5 separate regions of the Homo sapiens genome follow, and all the other regions are linked to region 2. Evidence: fine-mapped expression QTL. A gene starts in region 2. Each other region holds a variant in brackets. All regions are shown on one strand. Distances are between the middles of the regions. Region 1 has its middle 13 kb from the start of HEXB. Region 2 holds the start of GFM2 (GTP dependent ribosome recycling factor mitochondrial 2). Region 3 has its middle 4.3 kb from the start of LINC01335. Region 4 overlaps HEXB (hexosaminidase subunit beta). Region 5 overlaps GFM2 (GTP dependent ribosome recycling factor mitochondrial 2).

Region 1 (6,479 bases), 95 kb after region 2:
CCCTGGCCTGCCTTCAGCAGGAATCCTCTTACCTTTGATGGTTCCTTTTAATAAATTGCCATCCACTGACCCCCTCACTCTGCTGGTTGCTTATAAATTTCCAGCTGTCTTTGCAATATTCAGAGTTCAGCCTGATCTGACTCCCATGTTGCAATAGTCTTGACACCTATTGGAATAGTCCTGAATAAAGGCTTCCTTATCATTTTGACAGGTGTCCAAATAATTTTTTCTTTACCACAACTTATTTAGATAATATCCTCACAATATCTGTGGATCAGCTAGCTATGGGAAATGAGGAAAAGAGGAATTTAGGAAATTTATCAGATTTCTAGCTCAGACTTACAGGTAGATAATCTATCAGTCATTCAATGCTTAGTTACAGAGAACTGAGAAAATAAATAAAATTTAGAAGCTTTTTGGAACCTCCAAAAATGCCTTAAGCCTTGACAGAGATGTGACTGTGATCCGCATCACATATGCTTACAACTTCTGTTCTCAGATTATAGATTAGCTTACTTTCTTATTTTTCTCATTCTGTATAATGACTAGAGATAAATAAATGGCATCTGAGATAAAAACCTCCTTTCTTCTTCTTCTTTTTTTTTTTTTTTTCTGAGACAGAGTCTTGCTCTGTCTCCCAGACTGGAGTGCAGTGGCGCAATCTCAGCTCACTGCAAGCTCCGCCTCCCGGGTTCACGCCATTCTCCTGCCTCAGCCTCCTGAGCAGCTGGGACGACAGGCGCCTGCCACCATACCTGGCTAATTTTTTCGTATTTTTAGTAGAGACGGGGTTTCACCATGTTAGCCAGGATGGTCTCGATCTCCTGACCTTGTGATCTGCCCGCCTCGGCCTCCCAAAGTGCCGGGATTACAGGCTTGAGCCACCACGCCTGGCTGAAAACCTCCTTTCTTCTTAATTGATGACCTTGGACTCTTGTTATAGATTTAACTTCCCCTTTGTTCTAGTTTGTTTAGACCAAATGACAAACAACCAATGATTATTACACCCTCTGTTAAAAAATGTCAAATGTACCCTTCTCAAAAAGAAACATGGCCTATAGCCAATTAAATTGCTATAAGAATGTGCCAGACTCACATGAATAATAATGTTGTAATTCTGCTAAAAATTCCTCTGTTCCCACCTATACAAATGAAATATTTACTTCCCTGCTTCTGAATGCCAACTCCATTCCTTTGGAGTTGGTGTTTCTGGGTGGTTCATCCTCACACTTTGAGTATAACTAAATTCTGACCCTTTTGATTATTGTAGATTGACAGAACAGAATCCACTCCAGCTAGCTTTAGGAGGAATTAACTAATTACAGAGTATCGAGTGGCTCACAGAATCCTTGTGAGAGCTGAAGAACTTGGCTCTTGGCTGAAATTTCTTGAGTAACTGCTCTTGTCATGACCAGGAAGCTGCATGCCGGATGGAGAAGCCTCTGCTATAGGTGCTAACTCTAGAATTACACCATTTCAGCTCCAGTCTACACAGCAAAGGGATACGTCATGCCCTGTCTCAGTCTCCACCTAACTCACTTCTGAATTCAAGGCTCATGCAATCACATCTAATGAGCAGAAACTAAAGAACATGGAACCCCAGCAGCAAGGGAGTCTGGGAAGTGTAGTTGCCAGCCTCTGTTCTACCGGAGGACACACTGGGAGGAGGGGAGATGGATGGATGCCTAGTGAGCCACTTCAGCATCCCCATGGACAGTGATACAATTTGTTGAGGTGGGTGGACAGCCTAGGACCTGGGCAGACAAGCAAGCAAAGCTGCCTAACTCCTGCAGAAGTGGGAACATTCTGTGGCAGGGACGGAGCTCCTGAAATTAGATGATCACATTTTTCTACTCTCATGACATATCCATAAGCAACCCGAAATATTTGTGAATTCTGTCACTGCAATTATGAAAACTGAGATTGAGTGCCATCTGGCAAGGGGGAGCTAAACTGGCCTGTCCAGAAGGGCAAGAAGACGGCTTGGAGTTAAATCTGCTCTGGCAACTGGCAAGCATTTCTCCCTGCTTTGCTAAAATTAGCCACAAAAACAACTTTCTCTTCCTTATCTATTAAACAGTGCCATCTGGTGGGAATCCACACTATCTTGTTCCCCAATTCTCTACCTTTTCTATTAATGAATACTATTTATATAATTTGGGTATTCATTTGATCTGTTAATGCAGACCAAGTACCAAGATGCTAAGAAAAAAAAATCTGAATCCATCTGGAAACATTTTGGTGACCAAAGGCTGCTCTGATGCCACAAGAAGCAAACCTTCTAAGGTTTCTAAATCCAAAGTCTCCAGACTGGGGGCAAAGTTCATGTTGGCAACTGCATGTCTCCTACCCCTCTTAAAAATAGTCCTTCTTAACCTTCCTTCCACTCTCTACGATTTGTCTTGTATATGAGATGATGGAGAAAGCTGAACCGGGAGGGGACTGGGAAATGTAATAGACAAAGGACTTAATTTGACGTGTGGATATGAACAAGGAGGTGTGACAGGACATCTCTCAGGGAAGCAGAAATGGCACTAGCTACCCAGTGCAGGGTTTGCTAAGAGGGCATTGCTGTCAGTTGGCATGTCAGCCTGCCCTCTCCTCCCTTTTAAAGAAGTCTAGAGAGAGGTGGGGAGTTTGTCTTCGTGAGAGAGAATGTTCTTGGGGGCTAGGGATTGGAATTTGGTTCTGCTCTCTGTCAGAGGCATTCAGTGTGGTCTATAGCTTCAGAGGCTGTGGATCTGACTCTGGGGCATGGAGTGAGGGCTCACTTCTCACCAGGACTTACAGGCAGGCAGCTGGCACTGGTGGAAGTGCTCTGGGCAATATTGGCACGAAGAGCTGTGCAGTGTGCAAAGGACCAGAAAGCTCAGCTGGAAGCCTCCAGAGGCAAGTGGAAAAATAACTGCTTTTTTGTTGAAGATATGCTGGTTAGCTGAGGGGACACTGGGCTTCCCTGGAGGGCTGCCCTATTGGAGCAAGGAGTACATTCCCTGAAGGGCTCGCAGTGTGTACCACAGGCAGGGAGATGGATGAGGGGCATGTGGTGACCACTTTGACAGTTCACAAAGTCATGACGCTAGAGAGGGGTCAGGGTGGGGG[C/A]TATTGCCTGAGAACAAGCATCACATATATCGGGATAGCAGAAGCCTGGATCAGACTGCAAGCTTTGCAGGAACAAAGCACACAGACCTCATCAGCCCAAATTCCAGTGTGAGGCACAGAAGCAGGAATAACCAACAGCAAACGAGTGGCCGCCACCTATTCTCACCAAGGCGCCGGTCTCCATGTGAGGAGAATACTTTCCTAGCATTCACCAAGGAGTCCTCCCATTGCAGACAGACAGAATCGGACACCCAGGAAGCATCTCAGGTATCATGGGACCTGGGATTTTTAACCTCACTGTGCATCAGGCTCATCTTGAGAGCTTTGAAAAAAATATCAGTGTTTGAGTTTTGGCCCAGATCTATTAGAAAAGAATCAGCAAGTATAAGATAAAATTTATTTTTACAGTTTTACTGAGTGTGATTGACATACAATAAATTGCCTATATTTAAAGTATACAATTTGGTAAGTTTTAGATACATGGCGGTGGAACCATTGCCACAATCAGATATTGGACATACCCATCACTCCCCTTGTTTCTTCAGGCCCTTTTGCAATCTCCCCGCTTCACCCTTCTCTCCCCTCCCTGCCCCTGGCCCTACCTTCCATCCAGACAAGTACTGATCTGCTTTCTGTCACTACAGGTTAGTTTGCATTTTCTAGAATTGTATACAAATGTACCATATGGCTTTTTTTTTTGTCTGGTTTCTTTTACTCAGCATAATTATTTTGAGATTCATCCAGGTTGTAGTGCGTATCCACAGTTTATTCCTGTTATTGCTGAGTAGTACTCAGGGTGTGGAATTTGTTTATCCATTTACTAGTTGATGGACCTTTGGGTTGTTTCCAGTACTCAAGGGTTCAGTGGACGTAAGGTCTGATGAATACATAAGATTAATGAGGAGACGATTATTATTTTTATGGGTCTTGGAACACTTTGTTGCCAGTACTCTTGTGGCATTGTTGTCCCTTACTGTAGTTGTTTTTTTACCATCAGTCTTTCTGTGTACCACCCTATCCCTTGAGGATAACAATAATACTGATATAGGACTTTTCTCGGTCACTTTGCTGGCTGAAGACTTCCTGTCAGGAGACTTCCTGCCAGCCTTGCTGGGACCTGGGATTGCTGCAGAGATGCTCTGTCCACTTGGCCTCCTGGGCTGCACCCGGCCTGCATTCTGGTACAGATCCTGCAGCCACCGTGACTATGTGCTTGGCCCCTGGTGGGAGGGGGTGTGTGAGCGAGCAAGTGCGGGGTCCAGCCAATTGTTCCAAGCAGCACAGGAGCAGGCTCTGTGTGGGTCTTGTGGCTGGACCAGGCGTGTTGCAAACCACTCCCACAGTGGACTCCAGCATCTAAACAAGAGGAATGCAGTGGCGCCCGGGCAGGTGCACCCATGACCCCAAAGTCCCAGAGGGGGTGTTACAGAGTGCTAATTAGCTCTTTTAGTCTTGCCATCCACAGCCTGACTGACAGCATGTTAACAGTTCTGTTAGCATCTTGCCCCACCCTGGCTGGCAGCTCTGGGGGCTGGCTTGGCCCTGCTGCTACTTCCTGTTACATGAGGCAGCTGCGCTTCACTGGCGGAGGGCAGAGGGCCACAGTAGTACAGCCTTCTGTGTATTCGCATTTGGTGGGTCTTGGGTTCTTGTTTCACCTCTGAGAAGAATGAAATTGGGCTGACAATTGAAGGGCGAGGAGGGTGGAGAATAATTTTATTGAGCAATAAAATAGCTCTCAGCAGAGAGGGGACGTGAGGGTGGTCCCCCGCCTGAAGTTGATGGTTTCTCTCAGTGTGGCTGAGTCCAGGGCTTTTATGGGCTCAGAATAGGGAGTGTGTACTGACTGGTTTGTGAGTAGGCAAAAAAAAAAAAGAGGCTAAAACAAAGGCACCACTCACAGGTGGGCATGAGAGTGTACAAAAAAAACCAGTTAGGGAAGTGTAGGTATATGTAAAATAGGTGAAGGGTGGGGATCAATCAGAGGAAAGTGCACCAAACAGGAAGAGAGGTTCTCAATCAGTCCATGGATTTATGCAAGACTAGTACCTTGGCTTTCAGGCTTCAAACTCTCTTTGGTTTGAAGGTCAGGTTTCACTGGGGACCCACCCCTGTCTGCCTAGGATTGGTCTGCCTCCTGCTGCTATCAACACGTCTTCCACAGTTTTATATCACTTATGGTATTGCACATGGGAAGTTCTTGTTAACCTGGGGCTCCTGGCCTGTCTCTGCATCGCCCACTACCTTCTAGTTCTTTTTCTCCCCAGTCTCTTACTTATTTCCCCCAGTGTTCAGCCAAATTGAGATATGACTTTTCATTGTCTTATGAGGCCCTGAACTTCCGTTTTGCTGTCTTTATGCCAAGACCACACTGTCTTCCCTGGAAATCCTCCCTCTCTCCTCTGCCAGCCACTTGGCACCCTGTATCCCTAGCTCTGCTTGTCAACATTCTACAGTCAGCATGGTGCTGGTTTAAGAAGAGGCAAACAGATCGATGATGTAGGATTGATATCCTGATATAGATCCTATTCAGTGTAAAAATTTAATTTATGCTGGAGGAGACATGACAGATCAGGGAGAAAGAGAAGGATTTTCAATAAATAGCAAAGGAAGAATTGATGAGTTCCCTAGGGAAAAATCAATTTAGATAATTATCTCAGTCCTCCCAAAATTAATTCCAGATTTATTGATAAGGTAAGTTACTTAAAACCTAGAAGAAATTGAAAGTGCATATTTATCAAATCTGTGGTAGAAGGAGGACTGTCTCCCTTTTAGCTTAGATTTGAATAATGCTCATAACTGAAAAAAAAAATAGTTAAATTAAATTTTGTATGTCGAAAAAGTAACCTAAATTTAAAGGTACTCTTTGAACTTTAAAAAATACCATGGCAAACACAGCTAGTGATGGCATAGTATATTTACTATATGAAGTGCTCACACTTTGGAACCAGCCTGGCTAACATGGTGAAATCCCATTTCTATTAAAAATACAAAAAATTAATAGGGCGTGGTGGTGTGCTCCTGTCATCCCAGCTACTAGGGAGGAGACTTGCTTGAACCCGGGAGGCAGAGGTTGTGGTGAGCCGAGATTGTGCTGTTGAACTCCAGCCTGGGCAATAAGAGCAAAACTCTGTCTCAGAAAAAGGAAAAGAAAAGAAAAAAATGCCCGCACAAACCAATAAACATTCTGTAGAAAAATGGACAGAAGACTTGCATCCAAATAAGGAAATGCAATTGTTTAATGAACATAGAGATGAATGTTTAGTCTCAGTTTCTGCACTTGAATATGTGTACAGTTTAAAAAAGGAGACACAATCCTTCATAGACTAAATCACTCAAGATTGGAGACCATCAGAACATTTAATGAATTACACTAT
Region 2 (6,479 bases):
AAGCAATTCTCCTGTCTTAGCCTCCCGAGTAGCTGGGACTACAGACACACACCACCACACCCAGCTAATTTTTGTATTTTTAGTAGAGGTGGGGTTTCACCACATTGGTCAGGCTGGTCTTGAACTCCTGACCTCAGGTGATCCACCTGCCTTGGCTTCCCAAAGTGCTGGGATTACAGGCGTGAGTCACGGTGCCCAGCCGATAGTGACTTCTATAAGCAGTATATGTGTTTACTAATGTTTAATAGCATAATACTGGAAGAGTGTTTCCACCTCTTAATATGTCTCTGTATTTCTTCCCGAGATGGATCTGTAGATCACTAGCAAGACAAAATCCTCACCAGATGTTTTATGCCTCCCTTGAGTGCAAATTCTATGAAAAAACTGAAATAGTGTAAGGCAGTAAAAATAATTCTTTAAATATAAATACTGCATATTCTTTTATCTGGATTTCTGCTAATCTATTTACAGGTGTTTTAAAAAGCCACATTTTTTGTGACAACTCAGGGAGTTTTCCACCATTCTACTTTTTAACCAAGTTTGGCACTACAGGGCAGCACAAATAAGAAGCATTTGTATTTTTCTTTATGACTGCATAGCACTGTGGGTTTTCAAACAGGAAGACAAATATTGAATTTGAAATTCACTCCTTACCAGCTTTTTAATTTCATATGGCATTCTAATAAATTTTTTTTATAACTTAAATTTTAAAACCTTATGATGAGAAAGCAAGTTTTTTATTAAATTTACAAAGACTTCAACATCTAAATAATGGGAATAATAGCTGTACTTCATGTTTGAAATTAAACCGAGAAACAAGAACCTCAAATTTGAATTTAAGTAATTCTCCTAAACAAAACAAAGACTTCAATTGTTATTGCTTACCGCCTTCTCTTTTCTTTTCTGTTTAATCATATTGGAAAGTACTTTAGCTCGAGATTGTCCCTCTCTGTCCAGCAGATAGGCAGGTACTGCTCCCTGTGGTGTCTTTTCATCATTCTTTTGTTTGGTGTTTCTCTTTTCATGCATCTTGATACTACCAAGAAGGAAAAAAGATTCAAGATTATCTGTTTTAATAATGATTACTCAAAAGATGTTAACTTGTTATGACAAATAAATGAGACCACTTACGTCTTTTTCATTTGTATTTTCTCAGCATGACGCTGTTTATGGTAAAGCTTAGCCTTCAGACCAATCATTTTCTTTGCCTTCTTTGAACGTTCATGAGCCTCTCGACTTTCCTTCTTTCTCTTTTTCTCATGGTAATCCAAACGGTATCCATAGCGTTTACGGTGTAATTCAATATATTCATTCTGTGGCTATAATGATGGAAGAAATATTATTTTAATTTTTTAAAGTACTGACAATTATTCTAAAATGCTTTCTTTTACACAGCACAAAGACCCTGTTTCATCCAAATGTTCACTTACTTAAATGATTCTTGCACCATTAAGTTTATTCACATGATGTAAGTTAAATTTTGGTCTTGAATGATATGAGGCATCAGGGCTTACATCTCTAATAATCTCATTAGGGAATGGTCCAAAATCTACTGGACCACAAAAGGGATGAACTGATTACAGTATCTTTTTTCCTTGACATAATTTGCTTTTTTAATAACACCTTCATTTCACATTTAAAAAATTTAAGTCAGTTTTATTGAAGCATAATTTACACACAGTAAAACCTGTCCTTTTTAGGTATACAGTTCTAAGTTTTTCCTAACTACACAGTTCTGTAACCACCACAATCAAAATACAAAGAATTTCCATTTCCCCCTAAAATTCCCTATGTAACTTTTAAGTCAATCCTCTTTCCCAACCCTCAGTTTGATACCTATCCCTACAGTTTTGCCTTTCCCAGAATGAAACAGGGATCAACAGTAGTACATAGCCTTTTGAATCTGGTTTCTTGCTTTTGGGATTCACCCAATTTGCTGCAGGTATAGGAACTTCAATCCTTTTTATTGTTGAGTAGTATGCTATTGTATGGATACACCACTGTTTACCCGCTGACCAGATGATAGGTATCAGGGTTGTTCCCAGTTTTGGGTGATTACGAATAAATCTGCAATAAACAACTGCATGCAAGTCTTCATGTGGACGTGTGTTTACTGCCAGACCGTTTTCCAAAAGTGCATTATTTTTCTTTTCACCAGCAATGTATGGGATGCTTTTTGCATTTTAGACACGTTTTAAACACGCGGCCAGGCGTGAGTCTATTCGTATTTTAAGGCTGCAAAAATAAAAATGATACAAAGCCAAGTCCAGCACAGAGAGCAATGTTAAGTAACAACCAACAAGGTGTGCTGCTACCAACTGCTATCACATAAACTTTGCAGCAATCACATGAAGGGTGTATGGAATGCCATTTTGCAAAGAAACGCAGATTATAGAGACGTAACACAAAGAGAAAGGACCTGGCAGTTAGATCTGGGCCGTTAAGCCCGGCTTCGCAATTCATTAGCTGTCTGGTCTTTGGCAAGGACGCCTTCAGTTTCCTCAGCAGTAAAATGAAGGGGGCGGGACTGACATCTAAGACTGTACAAGGGACAACCATATTCCCATTAGGCTCTGGGGCTGATAACCACGCTTGTGGTGAAATCAGGAATTTTTAGGACTCTTAGCGGTGGATCAAAAAGAAAAAAGAAAACAGGACAGAGTAAAATCTTGCTCCAAAGCTTGTGTTCTGGCAAATACCGTCTGTGTCTCGAATGTGAAGTTGTTTCCACTCCTCAGAGCCCACCCCACGGGTCTACCATCCTTTTCTCTTGGCAGTTCTCATTTCCGCCTACCACCGCTCACCCCCTACCCCAGCGCCCCAGAGTCCTCAGGTCCCACTAACTCAGACGCTGTGTGTCGCGAGCGTCCGAGGCATCCTCCTTACCATGGTGACGGCCGCAGAGCCGCCAGGAGCAGCCGCTGGAGTGCGAAAACGCTCTCAATTTTCGGGTCTCAAAGACCCACAAGCCCACACCACGCAGGCCGGGACAGGAAAGAGTCACCCTTTAAAACGGCCGAGTGAAGAGCAAGAACCACGCAGCGGTTCCGAGCCTCTGTTTTCCGCTTTTAGCTAGGAGGACGGAAGTTGCTGGCAGGCGGCATTTGGCCGGTACACCGCCGGAAGTGTGGAGGTGTGGCTGCCCGAGGCGGTAGAGCGGAGAAAGCCTATTTTCTTTTCGTTTAGATACATTGCCTTTTGCCTAGGCTGGCGTCGAGACTTGAGGCCGTTGCAGACTTTGGCGCGGCTCGCGCCTCCTGCTTCAAGAGCCCAGCGGTGAGAGCTGGCCTGCGGCACGCGGCCTAATGCCAGGTGAGTACTGCTCCGAGCTGTGAGACATCGCGCGCCTGTGACCCTGTCACAGCGCTGGGTACCGCTGACCTTTCAGGCTGCGACGGACACAGCCAGCCACGGAAGAGGACAACAGGGCCTCCGGACTCCCCTCGGTGTTCGCTCAGTATGGAAGTTTTTCTCTATCATTCGGCGAAGTCGACTCATCTTTGTTCCGGTCACTCTGTGTAATGTGTGCATGATTGTGAAGGATACTGAGGAATGAAAACTTAGTGTACAGAAAAATGGAACTACTGGGGCTTTGCAGCTGTTAGAAAAGAAGAAGATAACATTCTGGTTTTTTGGAGGTACAGGACTGATTCCAGAAATTTCTGAGGCATTTTGGTGCACCGAATCAAATGCTGAGTGGACTTGTATTTAGTGGCCCCCTAGTGTCAAGAAGTAATTAACTACCAGAAAGTACGTCTACTTAAATACACTATCAGGTTTACCCTTTTACTGCACAGTTGCAGAAGTTCCCTTAATTACTTCACAGCTTGCAGCGTGATTCAGTTGATGAACAAAAAGAACTGTACCAAAAGAATACTTTCATTAATTCTTAGTGCTTGTATTTGAGGCAGTATTTTGTTTTTGTTTTTGTTTTTATGGGTATTTTGAGACGGCATCTCGCCCAGTCGCCCAGGCTGGAGTGCAGGGGCACGAGCTCGGCTCACCGCAGCCTCGACCTCCCGGGATCAAGCGATCCTCCGACCTCAGCCTCAAAAGTAGCGAGCTACAGGCTCGCGCCACGAAGCCTGGCTGATTTTTGTAGTTTTTGTAGAGATGAGGTTTCACCGTGTTGCCCAGGCTGGTCTCGAACTCCCGGGTACGAGCGATCCACCCGCCTCGGCCTCCCAAAGTGTTGGGATTACAGGCTTGAGCCACAGCGCCCGGCTTTGAGGCAGTTTTTGTTTTGTTTTGAGACGGAGTTTCAATCTTGTCGCACAGGCTGGAGTGCAAATGCGCCATCTCGTCTCACTGCAACCTCTGCCTCCCGGGTTCAAGCGATTCTCCAGGTTCAGCCTCCCAAGTAGCTGGAATTATAGGCGCTCGCCACCACACCCAGCTAATATTTTTGTATTTTTAGTAGAGATGGGGTTTCACCATGTTGGTCGGGCTGGTTTCGAACTCCTGACTTCAGGTGATCCACCTGCCTCGGCCTCCCAAAGTGCTGGAATTACAGGCGTGAGCCACCGAGCCCCGCCTTTGAAGCAGTTTTTTAAGGCTCCATTTTCTAAGGTGATCTCATCATTCTCTTTAAAACCAGAAATAGTAACTAGCATTTGTATATTTTAGGTACAGTACGTTATATAATCTCTTTGCCTTTAATGCGCCCCTCCCCGCCGTCCCTCAATCCCCCGAATTTCCTCCCTCATCTACTTCAGGTCTTTGCTTAAATGTCACTGTTTGAATGAGGCCTTCCTTGATCTCTTTACTTACAGTTCTAACTGTCCCAATTCCTCCTTCCTGCTTCATTCTTCTCTACAGCACCCTATCATCATGGGAGAGACTATGTATTGTATTCGTTACTTTTGTTTGTTGTCTGTATCCCCTGACTACGGTAGAGGCAGTATGAGGGCAGAGATTGTTGTCTTTTGTTCACTGCATTAACGCTGATATCTAGAAAGCAGTGGGTAGGCAGACACACAGTAAATTCTTGTTGAATAAATGGGAACGAATAGGCTTGGGCGGGGGAGGGCTGGGTTGTGCAAATTATCTTTTTATTGACAACCACTGAGTTAAAGAAGAGGAAAATGTCTATTACAGTCACAACTGTGGAGAGACTATGAGGCCCTGAACTTTGGCGTTACCAATGAAAAGGGAATGGATTCAAGGCCAGGCATGGTGGCTCACGCCTGTAATCCCAGCACTTTGGGAGGCCGAGGTGGGTAGATCACTTGAGGTCAGGAGTTCACGACCAGTCTGGCTAACATGGCGAAACCCCGTCTCTACTAAAAATACAAAAAGTAGCCAAGTGTGGTGGCACATGCCTGTAGTTCCAGCTACTCGGGAGGCTGAGGCAGGAGAATCGCTTGAACCCAGGAGGCAGAGGTTGCAGGGAGCTGAGATCAAGCCACTGCACTCCAGGCTTGGTGACAGGGCAAGACCCTGTCTCAAAAAAAAAAAAAAAAAAAAAAAAACAACAAAGGGAACAGATTCAAATATATTTAGGAAATCAAATGTAAGTATTAGATGACTTTCTAAATAAGAGTAGTGAATGTTTCTTAGCTAAGATCCAGAAAGAACAGACTTAGGAGTAGTAATGAGGTTTCACATATCTTAATAACATGGATCACAATGGTTTAACACAGGGGTGTCTAATCTTTTGGTTTCCCTGGGCCACACTGGAAGAATTGTCTTTGGCCACACATAAAATCACTAATGATAACTAACAATAGCTGATGAGCTAAAAAAAAATAAAAAAAACCTCATAATATTTTAAGAAAGTTTACGAATTTATGTTGGGCTGCATATAAAGATATCGTGGGCCGCATGTGGCCTGCAGGCCACGGGTTGGACAAGCTTGGTTTAACATGGTCTGTCTGTCTCCCCAGCATCCCCAGTCTCAGCTGCGTCCTTATATTTCTAATAGCTTTGATATTGTACTTGAAACATAGTGAATATTTAGCAAATGTTTTTAAACTAAAGATGCTTAGTTTCTATAATCAGAGAGGAAGAGGACTTGCTTTTATATATTTTTTACATGATTTAGTTTTTACATGGTATGGTAGGAAAATCAGAGTATACAAATGAATCAATAAATTTTACTGCCAATTAGAAATTACCAAGTTAATATGTGGATGCTTAGCTTTTTATGCTTAATTCTATACATTTACATAACAATGCATTTTGGTTGATACAATGTTTTGTAATTTCAATAAGTTGATTTCTACTGTATCGCCATATCTTTCTTTAAACATTACATTGACAAATAAGGGACATTTTAAACCTAAAAACCATATTTCTCATATTTAATCAGAATTTTCCATTTTCTGAATGATGCATTGAATTTTTGGTAGCTAAAAATATTGTTCCAACTTTTTAAAAGTAATACATTTTACCATACATATTACATATGTCTAACTTACATATGCCTTGCTGACATGTAATACATAAGTTTAGTTTTTTGATTTTGTATATTTATTTTT
Region 3 (6,479 bases), 450 kb after region 2:
CTACCCTTTGCTCTGATTTTTAAGAACTGAGGACATTAGATTCCATATTTCTACCCTCAGAATGTAAGGTGGCACTTGAAATACTAGATTCATGGAGGCATTCTTAAAGCTTCAACTCTAAGTACATAAGTAATAAAAACGATTATTTTTATATTGAAATATGTGGACTTATGGGCAAAAATGAAAGATTATCACAAGCATGAGACTTTGAAGAAGCCATTCACTTGTTGAAGGCATTTGGGCTCACCCTTCAAGTGATGTATTGGCTCCCTCTGCCCTTGAGAGATTTTGGTGGAAAAGTTTGAGAACTGCCCTATGACTTGGTGACCCTTGGTGACCTTTGACTGTCTCTATACCAATTCTTGGAAGAGCAGTGATTTCTTGTGGACCACATGCCTCGCAAAATTGGGAGATATGGATTTGGGGAAAGGCTGAGCAGATTCTAACCTGGCAAAATTTCAGATACATAGTTATGTAATCATAATTATTCCCACTATAGTGGGCCATATTGATTAGCTGCAATAAGAGAAATATAGGTGACCAGAGGTGGTGATGAGATCAGCTTGTCTTCACGTTGAGGACTAATATTCTTCAATATGGTTCTTTTCATATTCTAATTCTCTGCATTAACCAGACCATATATGTTCATAATCAAAAAAGTGTATTAATTTATGATTGTATTCTCCCTGAATTTAACTATCTCATACCTAGAACTTTCTAAGGTGTGGTAAAATTGTTTACTTTGATCATTATCTCTTTCCCAAGAGGCCAAGTAGGAAAGTCAGCACTGGGTTGACCAGAGAGCTGGTAACACTGGATGGTTCACATACCATTTGCATGTTTCTTATTTGGTAGGCTCCAGGTACTTCTTTTGACCACTTTACTAGCCATGGGTTATGCACTGAGGTTGAGTTGTAGATTTTCACATGCAGAGGAAGAAATAAATGCTCCTGCTGTCCTTGGGCTCCCAGTGACTGGGAAGAATGGCAGGTACCTTATTAAGAAGTTGGGCAAATGCTGACACATTCACATTTTGTGTAGGTAGGAATATTGCACACATGTTTGTGTGGCTACAGTTCACAGACACAGTGTCAGCTTCTTCCTGGTTCTGATGGTTGGGCAAAGCTACAGTCCTGGGGAGGGGGCTCTGAGATAGTCAATAGATGTATATTTAGCTTCCAATTTTAAAATCATTACTATTTCTTTTAGCTAGGCTAAGAAATTTAACTTCTTGACATATCAGTTTGCATAATGGAGAGATATGATATCCATCTCAAGAGACAATTGTTGAGATAATGCATGTGCATGAACTAAGCACAGGGTCTGGTATGTAGTAGGTGCTCAATAAATGATAGATGTGCCAGAAGTTCTAAAACCTCCAAGGTATGTAGCGTCAAGGTAATAATAATATTCCCTCCCTCCCTAAACAAACATCAAAAGACCCCAAAACTAAAAATTCCAGCCAAGCAGAAGGCTGAATGCCAGCATATTCTGGAGACAGGGGAGAGCATCCTCTGTGCAGATACCATGTCACTAGTCATCCCTGTGTGCTAAGCCAATGAGACACAAGGATGAGTTATTAGCATAATCTCACTTTGAAACTTCTGCTCACAGAGAATAGCACTATCTTCAAGATGGTAAATAAGCTCAAAGGGATTTAATTTACCAAATGAAATGTGGATAATACTGTTTTATCTTTCAGAGAAGACATGTTGCTGCCTTTATAACCTCAGTAATGAGGCTATTACCATCTTAGAGCGACTCGCTCCTGAGTTCTGATTGAGTTCTGAGGGAGCAGTAGGCCACACATCTGCTGATTCATCTGCAGAAGTCATGCCCTCCGTTTAGCCATCTCGGGCAACTCCCTCAGTTGTGCATTGCTGTCTCAGGCGGAAGGAAAAGGCAGAGAGGAAGGGGACTGAGGGGAGGGTAATGGGATGCTGGGCTCACTGCTGTATTTTGTAAAACCATTATTATTCTTCATTGCCATGAGAGTGTCCTCATTTCTACACAATATTTTATACTCAATTAATTCCTGGATGTATCATCAGAGACTAATGTGTTTTGTGTGTATACTGACTAACCTGGGATGTGTTTTATGTTGTTATCTGTTTATATCATATTCTTTCAGCCAGCAGTAACATATTAATTGCTCATTTGGAGAATAGAATGGCTATACTGGAACCATCTTTCTTTGCTTAATTTAGTTCCTCTGTTCTTATTGAAAATGCCATTGGCAATGGGGATCAAGAGCCAAGGATTCTACTGTGATGTATTTGTGTATGTTAGATATTGAGTTATTTATTCATCTTCAAGTTCCTAGTTCTGTTGATAAAATAGGTGTCGACAAAAAAAGTCAAACTCTGTAAAATATTTGAGGAGATTTATTCTGAGCCAAATGTAAGTGACCAATGGCCTGTGACACAGCCCCAGGAGATCCTGAGAATATGTGTCCAAAGGTGGTTGGGCTACAGCTTGGTTTTATACATTTTAGGGAGACATAAGACATCAAATCAATACATGTAGGATGTACATTGGTTTGGTCTGGAAAGGCGGGAGAACTGGAAGTGGAGGGCAGGGGGATTGGGAGTTGAGGTGGTGGTGTTTCCAGGTCATAGATGGATTCAAAGATTTTTTTTTTTTCTGAGACAGAGGCTTGCTCTGTCACCCAGGCTGGAATGCAGTGGCACAATCTCAGCTCACTGCAACCTCCATCTCCTGGGTTCAGGCAATTCTCTGGTTTCAGCCTCCTGGGTAACAGGGACTACAGGTGCACTCCACCACACCCGGCTAATTTTTTGTAGTTTTAGCAGAGATGGGGTTTTGTAGTGTTGCCCAGGCTTGCCTTGAACTCCTGAGCTCAGGCAACCTGCCTGCCTTGGCTTCCCAAAGTGTTAGGATTACAGGCATGAGCCACCATGCCTGGCCAGATTCAAAGATTTTTTCATAGGCAATTGGTTGAAAGAGTTATTATCTAAGGACCTGGAATGTCTGGTTTATAGAAAGAATGTCTGGGTTACGAAGAGGTTCTGAAGACCAAGGTTTTGTCATGCAGAGGAAGCCTCCAGCAGCAGGCTTCAGAGAGAATAGATTGTAAATATTACTTATCAGGCTTAAGAGTCTGTTCTATCAATCTTAAGGTCTCTGTATTGATGTTAAAGCTGGTCAGCTGTGCTTGAATTCCAACAGGAAGGAAGGTATAATGAGGCATGTCCAGCTCCCTCTTCCCATCATGGCCTGAGCTAGTTTTTAGGTAAAATTTGGAATGCCCCCGGCTGAGAGGATGGGTCCCTTCAGATGGTTGAGGAACTTAGAATTTTAGTTTTGGTTTATATTCACAGGATTGAGAAATGATTATCAGAAGCCCAGAATCTGTGAGCTCCTCTGATGTAGAGAGGCACTGTGGCTGTGTAAAACATCACGATAGGGACCCATGTCCCCAAGTCCTGATTGATTCAGATGGCATCCGGTTTTTTTAGTCCTTACTTGGTTTCACTGCCTAGTAATGTAAGATTTCATAGGTTTGATAAATTCCTATTAGACAGTCATTGATTGCATGAGGCAAATAACTGGGTCAGAGATCTGTTGTGGGTTTTGAGCTCTCCCTGGAGGGTTAATGGGCCTGCCTGTTGAGGACAGGACATTCTTCCACATCCCTTGGCCACAGTCCCCTCACTGTCTTCCTGGCGGACCTCTGCAAGAGCTGTTGGAAGGATTGAACTGACAGACATCAGAGGTTT[G/A]CAGAGGCCAAATAGCCTTCTTTCCAACAGTGATTTGGTAATAGGCTTCTGCTCTTTTGTTTCTTGCTCAATTGCTAAAGTTTTGGGTACAGTTCTTGAAGGATTCATAGGTGCCTGAAAAGCCAATACATTCTTCCACATTGCCCTGTGCTTAGTGGTTATGCTTTTCCTCTTTATCAGCAGGAGTTAGAAAACAAGCAGATTTTCCCTCTGAGATTCTCAGTATTGTTCTGGGTTCTATTAAAATGCTGGGTTAGTTTTCAGAGGGATTGCTTCATCCTTTGAGCAATTAGTACCTTTTAAAAATTCTGACATCTTTCAGACCCTGTCCTGCAGACCCCACTAAAGTGCTTTTGTCAGAACAGTTTTAGCAGTCCTAGATCATGTTTTGCCAGCTGCTCCAGCCAGCGGTACAGAGAAAACACTTAAGCATATGGTTCAGATGCTTGCATTTTTATCTGGGTAAAATCTGTGTGAAAAGGCCCCAGAGTTTAAAAAGCCAATCAGTGTATATGATGTCAGAATGCTCACTGTTTGTCTCATTTTCTTAACATCCTGGTGTGATCTTCTAGGTGTGTCTAATTGTTCCAAAGGCACAGCTGTGTGGATTTGATTTCCCTACAAAAAAAAAAAAAAAAAAAAAAAAAAAGCCATATCCTCCAATGTCAGGGAACAGTCTATGACTTCCCTTCTGGTTCTCACCTTGGAATTTCTATGAAGCCCCCAGACTTCAAACTCTTTTGGCGGCAAAGTAGAAAGCATTTTTCCTTCAGCCTTAAAGGCTGACTTTTGATACCTTTGAACTTATCCTGAAGAACAAGGACCATTCAGAATTGATCTCATCACTCGGACTTTTAAGCATGTTCATAGCTCAGCGCTAAAAGGAAAAAAAACGGAGGGAGAAGAAAGGAAATCTTCACTGATCTTTCCTTTGTACATACTTGTGTGACCCTTTCATGCAGGCTTTTGTGGGGGCGTTGCAGCAAAAGATTGTTTTGCCTCAGAGAACAATTCTTTTGAGACACAACAGACTTATTTTCCTGGAGCTGAAATGAGTAGTTCAGCATTGACGTTTAAGGCACCCTCTGAGTCTGATCCTGGGGAAGCGGGAAGCTACTATTTGTAGTTGGAAAAAATATCAACCTCAGATGAAGCAAATCATAGACTCTACTGTTTCCTCAAGTTACTCAAGGTCAATAATGTCAAAGATACTCGCTAAGCAGTGGGCATATTCCTCTAGGTAACGTTCTGACACGATCCATTATTCAAGTCAGGCAACAAAGCTGCCAAAATCCAGAGAGGACAGACATTTGTGATGAACTTTCATCCTGAGAACTACCTTCTTGAATGAGTAGGCTATGGCCTCTCCCCATTACCTCTTTGTCCTCTATGGAAAGGATCAAAGTGTCTGAGACTGGAGTGCCTGCTCTGTGCCTAGATTGGAAAACTAGGCTGGTTTGATTTACCTACAGAAAAAGCCTGTGGCTAGAAACCAACTTTTCCCACAGCTGCCCGGTCCAGCTCCACCTCTCCTTGGGAAGGCGTCTCTCCTTGATTTGGAGATTTCCTGCAACACACTATCCTGACAGGTGACTCAGCTGCCAAACTTCCCTTCCTGGACCAATTGCACTGCTGTTGAAGCACTTATAAAGTATATGACCTAGTCTCAATTATTAGTACTCACAGAAGAGAGCAATGATGTAAAGCAAAAAACAGACCCAGCTAGCAGTCACTTCCCAGAACATGTGCTTTTGAATTGCTATGTTTTCTACTGCCGGGGTATGAGCTTTCCTAACACCAGCATAAATATCACCCACACAGCCATTTCTTATGTTTTTTATTAGATATTGTTTTTGCAGTTGATAGGAGTCAAAGAAGGTCCTTATAAAGCTTTGTCTCAGGGAGTCTGTGTCAGTAATAAGTGACAGGAAACTCAAAAAGGCTTAAGCAGAAAAGGGAATGTATTAATGAAAGGTATTCAGGGCTTCAGAATGATAGATTTGGGGGCTTAGGTTAGTTAATCACAACTGTTATTATCATCATATTTTGACTTGGTCATTTTTTTTTTGTAAGCTTAAAAGTGTCAACTCCATGTGACAGCAAGATAGTTCTTAGTTTCAAATCCAGCAAGCAATAAGAGTGACTCTTTCCCTCACAAACACCTCAGAAGAAAACTCTAAGGTATCTCATTGTCCCTGTTGGGTTAAATGTCCTTTCTAAGCCAGTTATTGAAAAATGTAATAATCATGTTGGGTGGTCTGAATCACATGTCACAATGAGCTTGTGTTATGGTCATCTCCCTGGAACCATGTAGACTGAAAATAGGAGATGAATGGATTTCTAAATGAAGATGGGGACTGTTTCCACAAGAAGTGGAAGTAGAAACTGGGTGTGACTAAGAGTACACATGTTCACTTTAGGCACAGATACAGCTAAGCAACCATACCTTCTCTAATGGTGCCAACTTCATAGCAGGCTATATCTGCCATGACTTAGTAAAAGGGGAAGAGAGGAAGATGTGTAGAGATGAATAAAACAGAATCTTTGCCTTTGAGAATGTTGGGGCCCAGAAAGTGATGCCCCAAAGACTGTTGCTGTGATGTGCTGAGGAGCCCTAGAAGCTGCCTAAGAATGAAGGTTCCTCTACCTTTGTCTTGTCTCTTAAGCACAAGGAAGGACTCTTCCTGGAATTTCTTTATGTGACCAAGAAAGCTCCTTTCCAAAATAAATGCAATTATC
Region 4 (6,479 bases), 57 kb after region 2:
TATAGGTCACTTGAAAAATTAGAACTCAATATTGTTTGTAACTAAAGTTGTGAGCTGTTCCTTAGCACATTTCTCAAACTATGGCCTATAAGTGCTCAGTTGCGGAAAAGCAGTCTTGTCTCCCAGCACTGCAAATCAAATTTCTATCAAGACTAGATTCAACTACCAGTTTATAGTAAATACAGGGACATATTAATTGACACTGTGGGGTGCAATCAGCAAAACCCAGACTGTGGGAAACTGTAGGACACATGACTCAGTTTCTTCAACAACAATTACAGGAGAAAAAGGTGGGAAGAGCAGACCTGTAGATCAAAAAAGAATTACTAGACATATTAACTCACCACAATTATGGAGCTTATTTGTATCCCACTGCAAATGTTTTAAAATAATTTTTTAAATAAGAGAAAAAGACAGTTGGAGAAATGTGAATTTTTTTTTAAAATTTAAAGCATTTCTTTTTTTTATTATTATCATACTTTAAGTTTTAGGGTACATGTGCACAATGTGCAGGTTAGTTACGTATGTATACATGTGCCATGCTGGTGCGCTGCACCCACTAACTCGTCATCTAGCATTAGGTATATCTCCCAATGCTATCCCTCCCCCCTCCCCCACCCCACAACAGTCCCCAGTGTGTGATGTTCCCCTTCCTGTGTCCATGTGTTCTCATTGTTCAATTCCCACCTATGAGTGAGAATATGCGGTGTTTGGCTTTTTGTTCTTGTGATAGTTTACTGAGAATGATGATTTCCAATTTCATCCATGTCCCTACAAAGGACATGAACTCATCATTTTTTATGGCTGCATAGTATTCCATGGTGTATATGTGCCACATTTTCTTAATCCAGTCTATCATTGTTGGACATTTGGGTTGGTTCCAAGTCTTTGCTATTGTGAATAGTGCCACAATAAACATACGTGTGCATGTGTCTTTACAGCAGCATGATTTATAGTCCTTTGGGTATATACCCAGTAATGGGATGGCTGGGTCAAATGGTATTTCTAGTTCTAGATCCCTGAGGAATCGCCACACTGACTTCCACAATGGTTGAACTAGTTTACAGTCCCAACAGTGTAAAAGTGTTCCTATTTCTCCACATCCTCTCCAGCACCTGTTGTTTCCTGACTTTTTAATGATTGCCATTCTAAATGGTGTGAGATGGTATCTCATTGTGGTTTTGATTTGCATTTCTCTGACGGCCAGTGATGATGAGCATTTTTTCATGTGTTTTTTGTCTGCATAAATGTCTTCTTTTGAGAAGTGTCTGTTCATGTCCTTCACCCACTTTTTGATGGGGTTGTTTGTTTTTTTCTTGTAAATTTGTTTGTGTTCATTGTAGATTCTGGATATTTCCTTTGTCAGATGAGTAGGTTGCGAAAATTTTCTCCCATATTGTGGGTTGCCTGTTCACTCTGATGGTAGTTTCTTTTCCTGTGCAGAAGCTCTTTAGTTTAATTAGATCCCATTTGTCAATTTTGGCTTTTGTTGCCATTGCTTTTGGTGTTTTAGACATGAAGTCCTTGCCCATGCCTATGTCCTGAATGGTAATGCCTAGGTTTTCTTCTAGGGTTTTTATGGTTTTAGGTCTAACGTTTAAGTCTTTAATCCATCTTGAATTGATTTTTGTATAAGGTGTAAGGAAGGGATCCAGTTTCAGCTTTCTACATATGGCTAGCCAGTTTTCCCAGCACCATTTATTAAATAGGGAATCCTTTCCCCATTGCTTGTTTTTCTCAGGTTTGTCAAACATCAGATAGTTGTAGATATGCAGCGTTATTTCTGAGGGCTCTGTTCTGTTCCATTGATCTATATCTCTGTTTTGGTACCAGTACCATGCTGTTTTGGTTACTGTAGCCTTGTAGTATAGTTTGAAGTCAGGTAGCGTGATGCCTCCAGCTTTGTTCTTTTGGCTTAGGATTGACTTGGTAATGTGGGCTCTTTTTTGGTTCCATATGAACTTTCAAGTAGTTTTTTCCAATTCTGTGAAGAAAGTCATTGGTAGCTTGATGGGGATGGCATTGAATCTATAAATTACCTTGGGCAGTATGGCCATTTTCATGATATTGATTCTTCCTACCCATGAGCATGGAATTTTCTTCCATTTGTTTGTATCCTCTTTTATTTCATTGAGCAGTGGTTTGTAGTTCTCCTTGAAGAGGTCCTTCACATCCCTTGTAAGTTGGATTCCTAGGTATTTTATTCTCTTTGAAGCAATTGTGAATGGGAGTTCACTCATGATTTGGCTGTTTGTCTGTTATTGGTGTATAAGAATGCTTGTGATTTTTGCACATTGATTTTGTATCCTGAGACTTTGCTGAATTTGCTTATCAGCTTAAGGAGATTTTGGGCTGAGACAATGGGGTTTTCTAGATATACAATCATGTCATCTGCAAACAGGGACAATTTGACTTCCTCTTTTCCTAATTGAATACCTTTTATTTCCTTCTCCTGCCTAATTGCCCTGGCCAGAACTTCCAACACTATGTTGAACAGGAGTGGTGAGAGGGGGCATCCCTGTCTTGTGCCAGGTTTCAAAGGGAATGCTTCTAGTTTTTGCCCATTCAGTATGATATTGGCTGGGGGTTTGTCATAGATAGCTCTTATTATTTTGAGATATGTCCCATCAATACCTAATTTATTGAGAGTTTTTAGCATGAAGGGTTGTTGAATTTTGTCAAAGGCCTTTTCTGCATCCATTGAGATAATCATGTGGTTTTTGTCTTTGGTTCTGTTTATATGCTGGATTACATTTATTGATTTA[C/A]GTATATTGAACCAGGCTTGCGTCCCAGGGATGAAGCCCACTTGATCATGGTGGATAAGCTTTTTGATGTGCTGCTGGATTTGGTTTGCCAGTATTTTATTGAGGATTTTTGCATCAATGTTCATCATGGATATTGGTCTAAAATTCTCTTTTTTGGTTGTGTCTCTGCCCGGCTTTGGTATCAGGATGATGCTGGCCTCATAAAATGAGTTAGGGAGGATTCCCTCTTTTTCTATTGATTGGAATAGTTTCAGAAGGAATGGTACCAGTTCCTCCTTGTACCTCTGGTAGAATTCGGCTGTGAATCCATCTGGTCCTGGACTCTTTGGTTGATAAGCTATTGATTATTGCCACAATTTCAGCTCCTGTTATTGGTCTATTCAGAGATTCAACTTCTTCCTGGTTTAGTCTTGGGAGAGTATATGTGTGGAGGAATTTATCCATTTCTTCTAGATTTTCTAGTTTATTTGCATAGAGGTGTTTGTAGTATTCTCTGATGGTAGTTTGTATTTCTGTGGGATTGGTGGTGATATCCCCTTTATCATTTTTTATTGCGTCTATTTGATTCTTCTCTCTTTTTTTATTAGTCTTGCTAGCGTTCTATCAATTTTGTTGATCCTTTCAAAAAACCAGCTTCTGGATTCATTAATTTTTTGAAGGGTTTTTTGTGTGTCTATTTCCTTCAGTTCTGCTTTGATTTTAGTTATTTCTTGCCTTCTGCTAGCTTTTGAATGTGTTTGCTCTTGCTTTTCTAGTTCTTTTAATTGTGATGTTAGGGTGTCAATTTTGGATCTTTCCTGCTTTCTCTTGTGGGCATTTAGTGCTATAAATTTCCCTCTACACACTGCTTTGAATGTGTCCCAGAGATTCTGGTATGTTGTGTCTTTGTTCTTGTTGGTTTCAAAGAATATCTTTATTTCTGCCTTCATTTCGTTATGTACCCAGTAATCATTCAGGAGCAGGTTGTTCAGTTTCCATGTAGTTGAGCAGTTTTGAGTGAGTTCCTTAATCCTGAGTTCTAGCTTGATTGCACTGTGGTCTGAGAGATAGTTTGTTATAATTTCTGTTCTTTTACATTTGCTGAGGAGAGCTTTACTTCCAACTATGTGGTCAATTTTGGAATAGGTGTGGTGTGGTGCTGAAAAAAATGTATCTTCTGTTGATTTGGGGTGGAGAGTTCTGTAGATGTCTATTAGGTTCACTTGGTGCAGAGCTGAGTTCAATTCCTGGGTATCCTTGTTGACTTTCTGTCTCGTTGATCTGTCTAATGTTGACAGTAGGGTGTTAAAGTCTCCCATTATTAATGTGTGGGAGTCTAAGTCTCTTTGTAGGTCACTCAGGACTTGCTTTATGAATCTGGGTGCTCCTGTATTGGGTGCATATATATTTAGGATAGTTAGCTCTTCTTGTTGAATTGATCCCTTTACCATTATGTAATGGCCTTCTTTGTCTCTTTTGATCTTTGTTGGTTTAAAAGTCTGTTTTATCAGAGACTAGGATTGCAACCCCTGACTTTTTTTGTTTTCCATTTCCTTGGTAGATCTTCCTCCATCCTTTTATATCGAGCCTATGTGTGTCTCTGCCCGTGAGATGGGTTTCCTGAATCCAACACACTGATGGGTCTTGACTCTTTATCCAATTTGCCAGTCTGTGTCTTTTAATTGGAGCATTTAGTCCATTTACATTTAAAGTTAATATTGTTATGTGTGAATTTGATCCTGTCATTATGATGTTAGCTGGTTATTTTGCTTGTTAGTTGATGCAGTTTCTTCCTAGTCTCGATGGTCTTTACACTTTGGCATGATTTTGCAGCGGCTGGTACTGGTTGTTCCTTTCCATGTTTAGTGCTTCCTTCAGGAGCTCTTTCAGGGCAGGCCTGGTGGTGACAAAATCTCTCAGCATTTGCTTGTCTGTAAAGTATTTTATTTCTCCTTCACTTATGAAGCTTAGTTTGGCTGGATATGAAATTCTGGGTTGAAAATTCTTTTCTTTAAGAATGTTGAATATTGGCCCCCACTGTCTTCTGGCTTGTAGAGTTTCTGCCGAGAGATCCGCTGTTAGTCTGATGGGCTTCCCTTTGTGGGTAACCCGACCTTTCTCTCTGGCTGCCCTTAACATTTTTTCCTTCATTTCAACTTTGGTGAATCTGACAATTATGTGTCTTGGAGTTGCTCTTCTCGAGGAGTATGTTTGTGGCATTCTCTGTATTTCCTGCATCTGAATGTTGGCCTGCCTTGCTAGATTGGGGAAATTCTCCTGGATAATATCCTGCAGAGTAGGACTTGGTTCCATTCTCCCCGTCACTTTCACTTTCAGGTACACCAATCAGATGTAGATTTGGTCTTTTCACATAGTCCCATATTTCTTGGAGGCTTTGTTCATTTCTTTTTATTCTTTTTTCTCTAAACTTCCCTTCTCACTTCATTTCATTCATTTCATCTTCCATCACTGATACCCTTTCTTCCAGTTGATCACATCAGCTCCTGAGGCTTCTGCATTCTTCACGTAGTTCTCGAGCCTTGGCTTTCAGCTCCATCAGCTCCTTTAAGCCCTTCTCTGTATTGGTTATTCTAGTTGTACATTCGTCTAAATTTTTTTCAAAGTTTTTAACTTCTTTGCCTTTGGTTTGAATTTCCTCCTGTAGCTCGTAGTTTGATCTTCTGAAGCCTTCTTCTCTCAACTCATCAAAGTCATTCTCCGTCCAGCTTTGTTCCATTGCTGGTGAGGAACTGCGATCCTTTGGAAGAAGAGAGGTGCTCTGCTTTTTAGAGTTTCCAGTTTTTCTGCTCTGTTTTTTCCCCATCTTTGTGGTTTTATCTACTTTTGGTCTTTGATGATGGTGATGTACAGATGGGTTTTTGGTGTGGATGTCCTTTCTGTTTGTTAGTTTTCCTTCTAACAGACAGGACCCTCAGCTGCAGGTCTGTTGGAGTTTGCTAGAGGTCCACTCCAGACCCTGTTTGCCTGGGTATCAGCAGCGGTGTCTGCAGAACAGTGGTTTTTCGTGAACCGTGAATGCTGCTGTCTGATCGTTCCTCTGGAAGTTTTGTCTCAGAGGAATACCCGGCTGTGTGAGGTGTCAGTCTGCCCCTACTGGGGGGTGCCTCCCAGTTAGGCTGCTCAGGGATCAGGGACCCACTTGAGGAGGCAGTCTGCCCGTTCTCAGATCTCCAGCTGTGTGCTGGGAGAACCACTGCTCTCTTCAAAGCTGTCAGACGGGGACATTTAAGTCTGCAGAGGTTACTGCTGTCTTTTTGTTTGTCTGTGCCCTGCCCCCAGAGGTGGAGCCTACAGAGGCAGGCAGGCCTCCTTGAGCTGTGGTGGGCTCCACCCAGGTGGAGCTTCCCGGCTGCTCTGTTTACCTAAGCAAGCCTGGGCAATGGCGGGCACCCCTCCCCCAGCCTCGCTGCCGCCTTGCAGTTTGATCTCAGACTTCTGTGCTAGCAATCAGCGAGACTCCGTGCACGTAGGACCCTCCGAGCCAGGTGCAGGATATAATATCCTGGTGTGCCGTTTCCTAAGCCCGTCGGAAAAGCACAGTATTCGGGTGGGAGTGACCCGATTTTCCCGGTGCCGTGTGTCACCCCTTTCTTTGACTAGGAAAGGGAACTCCCTGACCCCTTGCGCTTCCCGAGTGAGGCAACGCCTCACCCTGCTTCGGCTCGCGCATGATGCGCTGCACCCACTGTCCTGCGCCCACTGTCTGGCACTCCC
Region 5 (6,479 bases), 37 kb after region 2:
AAATTTTCCTTATATAATTACACTTCACATTTATAAACTATTTCCCAACATTTTTTACCATTCCTGAAGACAGCTTTTTGTGAAATTTTGAAATAAGGTTTAATCAAGGCAAAGCCTTGAGCCTTTTACGTTAAGGCTTATAAAAGAAGCATACTAGAAGGAGGATTGGAAGGTGCTTTTGAAGACAGTAAAACACCTAAAATGGGAGAGAAGTGATAGATTACAATGTAACACTGTGAGAGGAAGTGGAGTTTTAAAGTAGGTGCAGAACTGTGCTGTATAATATAGCACAGTAGAACAGATGTTTTGATTCATCAAGAAATGATTAAATTACATTCTGCATCCTCTTTTTAGGAGGACAGGGTAATGTTTACATAAGATTTTAGAAGGAGTTTCTTAAAAAGGTTATAAATTTATCTTTAAAAAGGATAAACTGATTTAGTTAACCTGGAAAAGCATGGAGTACTTTGTTTTCCCAAAATGCCAGCCAAATGAGGTAGTAATTTAGTTTAATTGATACTGAAGAGTATGATAACAGTAATTAAAACAGAAATGTTTTATTTTAAAAAACCTATTATTTAAATAATTGAAATGTAATCCCAGCACTTTGGGAGGATTGCTTGAGCCCAGGAGTTCAAGACCAGCCTGGGCAACATAAGGAAACCCTGTCTCTACAAAAAAAAAAAAAAAAAAAAAAAATTAAAAATTAGCCAGGCATGATGGCATACACCTGTGGTCCCAGCGACTCAGGATGCTGAGGTGGGAAGGTTGCTTAAACCTGGGAGGTCAAGGCCACAGTGAGCTGTGATCATACCACTGCACTCTAGTCTGGGTGACAGAGCGAGACCCTGTCTTGAAAAAAATAAATAAAAATAAATAAAATAAAAACTGGCACTACGTTTAAAAAAAAAAAAAGCAAATAATACACAAATCTACCAAGTAAATAATTAAGTCCGTTTCTCTGTTCCTCCATCTCATTCTGCAGAATAACCACTGAAAACTTGGTGAATAGCCTTTCACACTTTTTACCCAAACATATGTTCTTCTGCTGTGCTGTTATGCAGCAGCATAATATAGTTTTGCAAGTATATATGTACAGATACCTATAAACAAGTCATTTTATTTGTATTATTTTACAACTATTTTCCCCAAATAGTTCACTTTTTAACTTAAAGTATAGCAGTCCTATACCAAGTGATTTTTTTTTAAATTTGTGATTACAGTTTTATTACAGCAAAAGGATTTAAATTAGGATCAGCCAAAGAGACACTTAGAGCAAAGTCTGGGAGGGTTTTAAACATTTGCAATGCTTCCTTTATCCTCAGGGACATGTTACCCTCTTGGCAGAGTATTGCCAACCAGGGAAGCTCACCCGAGCCTTTGGTGGCCAGAATTATTATTGGGGCTTGATCATACTGTCCATGTAGTTGACCTTTAGTCTCCAGTCCCTTCCATAGATTCAAGCTAATACGCTAATACCTTTAGTCTTCATTGGTTCAAAAAAGATAAAAGTCAGTTTCTCCCTCATATGAAGGTTCAAGCTAGTCTGAAGGTTTTGACTGCTTACAAAGCTGTAAAGTGCCCTGGATGATTGGGAAATGCCCATGTTGTTGGGAAAGGTTTTTTAGAAAGGTTATTCCCCCCATTTACAAGGTATAGCCCTCATTCTGATGTGTCATGACAGTTGCCTACATTTTCGTTAAGAAAGGGGCTTTGGCCGGGTGCGGTGGCTCACGCCTGTAATCCCACCTCTTTGGGAGGCCGAGGCAGGTGGATTACCTGAGGTCACGAGTTCGAGACCAGCCTGACCAACATGGAGAAACCCCATCTCTACTAAAAATACAAAATTAGCCAGGTGTGGTGGCACATGCCTGTAATCCCAGCTGCTTGGGAGGCTGAGGCAGGAGAATCATTCGAACCTGGGAGGTGGAGGTTGCAGTGAGCCGAGATCATGCCATTGCACTCCAGCCTGGGCAACAAGAGCGAAACTCCATCTCAAAATAAATAAATAAATAAATAAAAAATAAAAGGGGCTTTACCCTCCTCTTATAGGCACCACCCAGAAGCTGTCCACATCAATTATATTCATCTTCCATTGGCCAGAAATTTGGCTTTGCGGTTGGGAAGTGTTGGTATTTAGCTAAGTGTTGGCATCATTAGTCTTAGCCAGATGCTACTTGCCCAGCAGATAATTCAACTATCAAAGAAGAAGGAGAGAATGGCCAGGTAATTCATTGTTTATTGATTCATTATTCCAGTCAGAAAAGTCAAAAGCAATGTTTTGATGTAAAAGCCCCGGGCCAAAAAGAATTACAAAGGAAACTGTAATTAATTAAAAATAAGTATGTATTAACATCATACTTTTATATAGTATTCTGCAATAAATATAATTTACCCTTAATCTTTTATTTCATTCCTCTGGTAACCAGACTGTTCTGTGTGGTATGGGGGAGTTACATATAGAGATTATTCATGATCGAATCAAGAGGGAATATGGACTGGAGACCTATCTCGGGCCTCTCCAGGTGGCATATCGAGAGACCATCCTAAACTCAGTTC[G/A]TGCCACAGGTAAAAAGTAAAACATTTAGGATTTGCTTTTTCTCTCTTTCTGTCTTTCTTTCTCTATTTAGTTGCTGAAAGCAGTGTTCATAGTCACTAATGTCTTCTATCAGAGGAGACAGTTTTTATGTATGTGGGGTTTTTTTGTTTTTTTAGGATTTTGTTTTGAATACAGAAAGCCCTATTTGATTATCAGCCATAACATCTCCTGGATGACCACTCATCAACCAAGTGTCCTTTTCAGTGGTCATGGAATAGAGTAAGCCACTGAAGTCGATGGCTTGTCCCAGTCCTCACTATCAGAACTAGTCTAAGAATTTGAAGTCAATGTGTTATTTTTACTCTATAAAGTAAAAGTAGAAAGTCAGTTTCAGTACTTAATAAATATGATTATTCTATGCTGATAGTAATCTTGAGAAACTATAGTTTTTATACTTCTATTCCCAAATGTAAAAACTCACAATTTTTCTGCATATGATTTTAATTTGGTTCCCTTAAGCCAAAAAACATGACAACAATTATTGCTACTCACCCCCAAGAAGAAAGTGTGGAAAGGTTTGTGGGAAATTGTTTAAAAAAAAAAAAAAAAAGACGTTTAGGATAACCAGGTACTTTCAAGTTCCTCATTAGTTTGTGAGAAGTCCTGATGGTTACATTTCACTGAAACTTGAAAAATTAAGCAGAATACAGGAGCAAATAGCATGAGGCGTTCTCTTTCTGGACTGTTTATCTGGAAAAACTAAAAATGCTAGAGAACTCAAAATAACAACTTTTAATGTCTGAGCTGACTAGAATGTAATAGAATTTTCCAGAAGTCAAAAAGGAAGTAGGAGTAGTAATCTGGGAAAATAAGTCAGCACTATAGGCTAGAGTTATTCTGGAAGAATCTGTAATTGTCTCTAACCTAGTGCTTGAGAGCCATATCCTCATGGAAAGAATTAACTAGGAAAAGTCCTTTCCACAAAAGCAGAGGGCAAGGAAACTTGCTTGTCTGGCTGTATGGTAAGGGAACAAGATTTCTGAGAATTTGTAATCATAGGCTTCTGATACAGGTCTTTAGCCTAAGTTCATAGAACCAGTGTGCCCTGAAAAACTCCAGACCAAGAAGAACTTAGTTCTTTAGTGTAAAGTGCTCATGGCTTGGTAGTATCCCAAGGAACCTGGAAAAAAGGGCTTCTCCAAAGATATCATCAACCCAGGCCTCAGATGCCACACATGGCCAGGTCTGGTGGCTCACGCCTGTAATCCCAGCACTTTGGGAAGCTGAGGTGGGCAGATCACGAAGTCTGGAGTTCGAGACCAGCCTGGCCAATATGGTGACCCCGTTTCTACTAAAAATACAAAAACTAGCTGGGAATGGTGGCGAGTGCCTATAATCCCAGCTACTCAGGAGGATGAGGCAGGAGAATTGCTTGAATCCCAGAGGCGAAGTTGCAGTGAGCTGAGATCGTGCCATTACACTCCAACCCAGGCAACAGAGTGAGACGCCATCTCAAAAAAAAAAAAAAAAAAAAAAAAAAGAAACCCCCACACATAAAAGAATATTAACTCATAATAAAATTAAATCAGAAAACCATGAGAAAAAGCACAATGAGCAAAAAGGCAATAGAAACAATAGGTAGTCATACCAGCAAAGGCTTCAGTTATTGGAATTATGAGATGTAGAATATAAAATACTATCTTTGAAGAAATAAGAGAGGCGATAGAAAGTACAGTTGACCCTTGAACAACATGGGTTTAAAGTATGTATGCAGGTACACTTACACATGGATTATTGTCCTGCCTTTGCCATCCCTCAGACAGCAAGCCAAACCCCTCCTTTTCTTACTCCTCAGGCTATTCAGTGCAAAGATGACGAGGATAAAGACCTTTATGATGTTCTACTTTTACTTAATAAATAGTAAATATATTTTCTCTTACGATTTTCTTGGTAACTTTTTTTTCTAGTTTATTGTAAAAATACAATATAAAATACATGTAACGTGTTAATTGACTGTTTATTTGTTGGTAAGTCTTCCTGTTAACAGTATTCTATAGTAGTTAAGTTTCAGGGGAGTCAAAATTTAGGCATGTATTTTTTACTGCATGGGGGTTTAGCACGCCTAGCCCCCACATTATTCAAGGGCCACTTGTGTTAGTAAGGAACAAGAAACGATCAAAAATAGGTGCGATGGGCATGATCTCACATATGTGGAACTTTTAAAAGTCTAACTTGTAGAAGAGTAGAATGATGGCTACCAGAGGCTGAGGATTGGAAAGCTGGGGAAAGGAGAGATGTTGATGAAGTGGGGTACGGAGTTTCAGCTGGACAGGAGAAATAGGTTCTCATGATCTGTTACACAGCACAGTGACTATAGTTAATAATTTATATTTTAAATCTCAGTACAAAGAAATAAGTTTTTTGACATGATAGATGTTAATTTGCCTGATTTTTATCATTCCACGATGTATACATGTATTGAAACATCACATACCCCATAAATATATACAATTATTTGTTAATTAAAAATGAAATAAAACATAAGAAAGGATAATGGAATATCATGCTATGTGTGAGAGAGGAAATGGTCAAAAAATGATGGTGAGGGGGTATATAAGGACACAGGAACCAGCTTGAAGAGACTCTGCTGGCCAAATCTGGATTAATTTGAATACCAAGTATAGACCATTGGGAAAAAATAGTTTCTAAGTTCATACTTATAATAATACATAGGTAAATAGGGAAGAAGAGGGAGGGGTCTTCCTCATAGTGGAATGCCAAGTGCTGACTGTTAGAAGTTGGGGAGTAGGGCTGGAGTCGGAAAATAGTGCAGACGACTCTCCCAAACACATAGAACAAAAAAGTTGCCGTATACATATGGCATAACAAATTTAAAATGAAGCAGAAGTAAACTATTGCTTAGAAATACATGCATATGTGATATAACACTAAAGAAAATAATGAGGATAACATATGATAGTGGTTGCTTCAGAAGGCATCTAAATATTGGTAATACTCTCTTTAGTAGTTTTAGGTTTCATGAATGCTCATTTTTAGCTTGTACATAAATATGTATATACTCATATATAAACGTATATTTATATATAAACATGTATATATTGAGACAATGTCTTGCTCTGTTGAGCAGGCTGGCATACAATGGCAAGATCTTAGCTGACTGTAGCCTTGAACTCCTGGGCTCCAGCAATCCTCCCGCCTCAGTCTCCCAAGTAGCTAGGACTACAGGTGTGCACTACCATACTCAGCTAATTTTTATTATTTTTTACAGAGACGGAGTCTTGCTATATTGCCCAGGCTAGTCTCAAATTCCTGGCCTCAAGTAATCCTCCCACTTTGGCTTCCCAAAGTGCTGGGTGGGATTACAGGTGTAAGCCACCACATCCAGCCTGTATAATTTTAAATAGAAAATGTTTCACAGTATAAAACGTAAGCATACAAAGGAATTATGAAGAATTATAGACTATAATTCTTAGTTTTGAATTTGGGCCATGAATCACTGCATTACATGGTCCCTCACATAAATATGGCATAGTTTTGTTTTAGTAAAATATTGGAGATTGGTAACAGACATAGTAAAATATTGGAGATTGTTGGTTTTTAGCAAATAAGAGATGCTGTTTTCAATCTTACCAAAAACACTTTACTGGTTTTTTGGGAAAGAAATTGTAAACAGTAAGTGCATAAAATATTGCTGGAAAAATACACAATATAAAACATTTTGTGGGTTGTCAGGATTTAAAGTCGTTTAATTTTCATTAGCTTACCTTTTATATTTGTAAAGGTTTTATCATTTAATTTTTTTAATATAAAAGTTTGTAACTAAGAGGATTTCAATCACCTACAAGACATTTTGAAAAGTTTAAAAGTATAATCTTCGTAACATGTGCCTCAACATATCTTAATGTTAAAACAATAGGTG

Evidence for each region. PIP is the estimated chance that this variant, and not a neighbour inherited with it, causes the effect.
Region 1: its variant is fine-mapped to the expression of GFM2 in liver (GTEx, PIP 0.99).
Region 3: its variant is fine-mapped to the expression of GFM2 in prefrontal cortex (GTEx, PIP 0.97).
Region 4: its variant is fine-mapped to the expression of GFM2 in whole blood (INTERVAL, PIP 0.99).
Region 5: its variant is fine-mapped to the expression of GFM2 in whole blood (TOPMed, PIP above 0.99).

Annotation. Positions count from the first base shown.
Region 1 is chr5:74,668,739-74,675,217 of GRCh38, reverse strand. It overlaps a transcript of HEXB not described here. Among named protein-coding and RNA genes, the nearest start is that of HEXB, 13 kb to the left of the region's middle. The variant C/A (reference allele first, on the strand shown) is at 3,103.
Region 2 is chr5:74,763,771-74,770,249 of GRCh38, reverse strand. GFM2 (GTP dependent ribosome recycling factor mitochondrial 2) reads left to right here and starts at 3,133. Exons shown (of 21, transcript NM_032380.5): 1 at 3,133-3,312. It overlaps NSA2 (NSA2 ribosome biogenesis factor), which reads right to left and starts at 3,001. Exons shown (of 6, transcript NM_014886.6): 1 at 2,887-3,001; 2 at 1,132-1,319; 3 at 886-1,036. The coding sequence starts at 2,889. RefSeq lists an enhancer at 2,981-3,420.
Region 3 is chr5:74,309,431-74,315,909 of GRCh38, reverse strand. No RefSeq gene overlaps it. Among named protein-coding and RNA genes, the nearest start is that of LINC01335, 4.3 kb to the right of the region's middle. The variant G/A (reference allele first, on the strand shown) is at 3,741.
Region 4 is chr5:74,706,424-74,712,902 of GRCh38, reverse strand. The region is part of intron 6 of HEXB (hexosaminidase subunit beta); the gene reads right to left. Among named protein-coding and RNA genes, the nearest start is that of HEXB, 24 kb to the right of the region's middle. RefSeq lists enhancers at 5,733-6,233, 6,234-6,479. The variant C/A (reference allele first, on the strand shown) is at 2,766.
Region 5 is chr5:74,726,349-74,732,827 of GRCh38, reverse strand. It overlaps GFM2 (GTP dependent ribosome recycling factor mitochondrial 2), which reads left to right. Exons shown (of 21, transcript NM_032380.5): 17 at 2,430-2,568. Among named protein-coding and RNA genes, the nearest start is that of GFM2, 38 kb to the left of the region's middle. The variant G/A (reference allele first, on the strand shown) is at 2,560.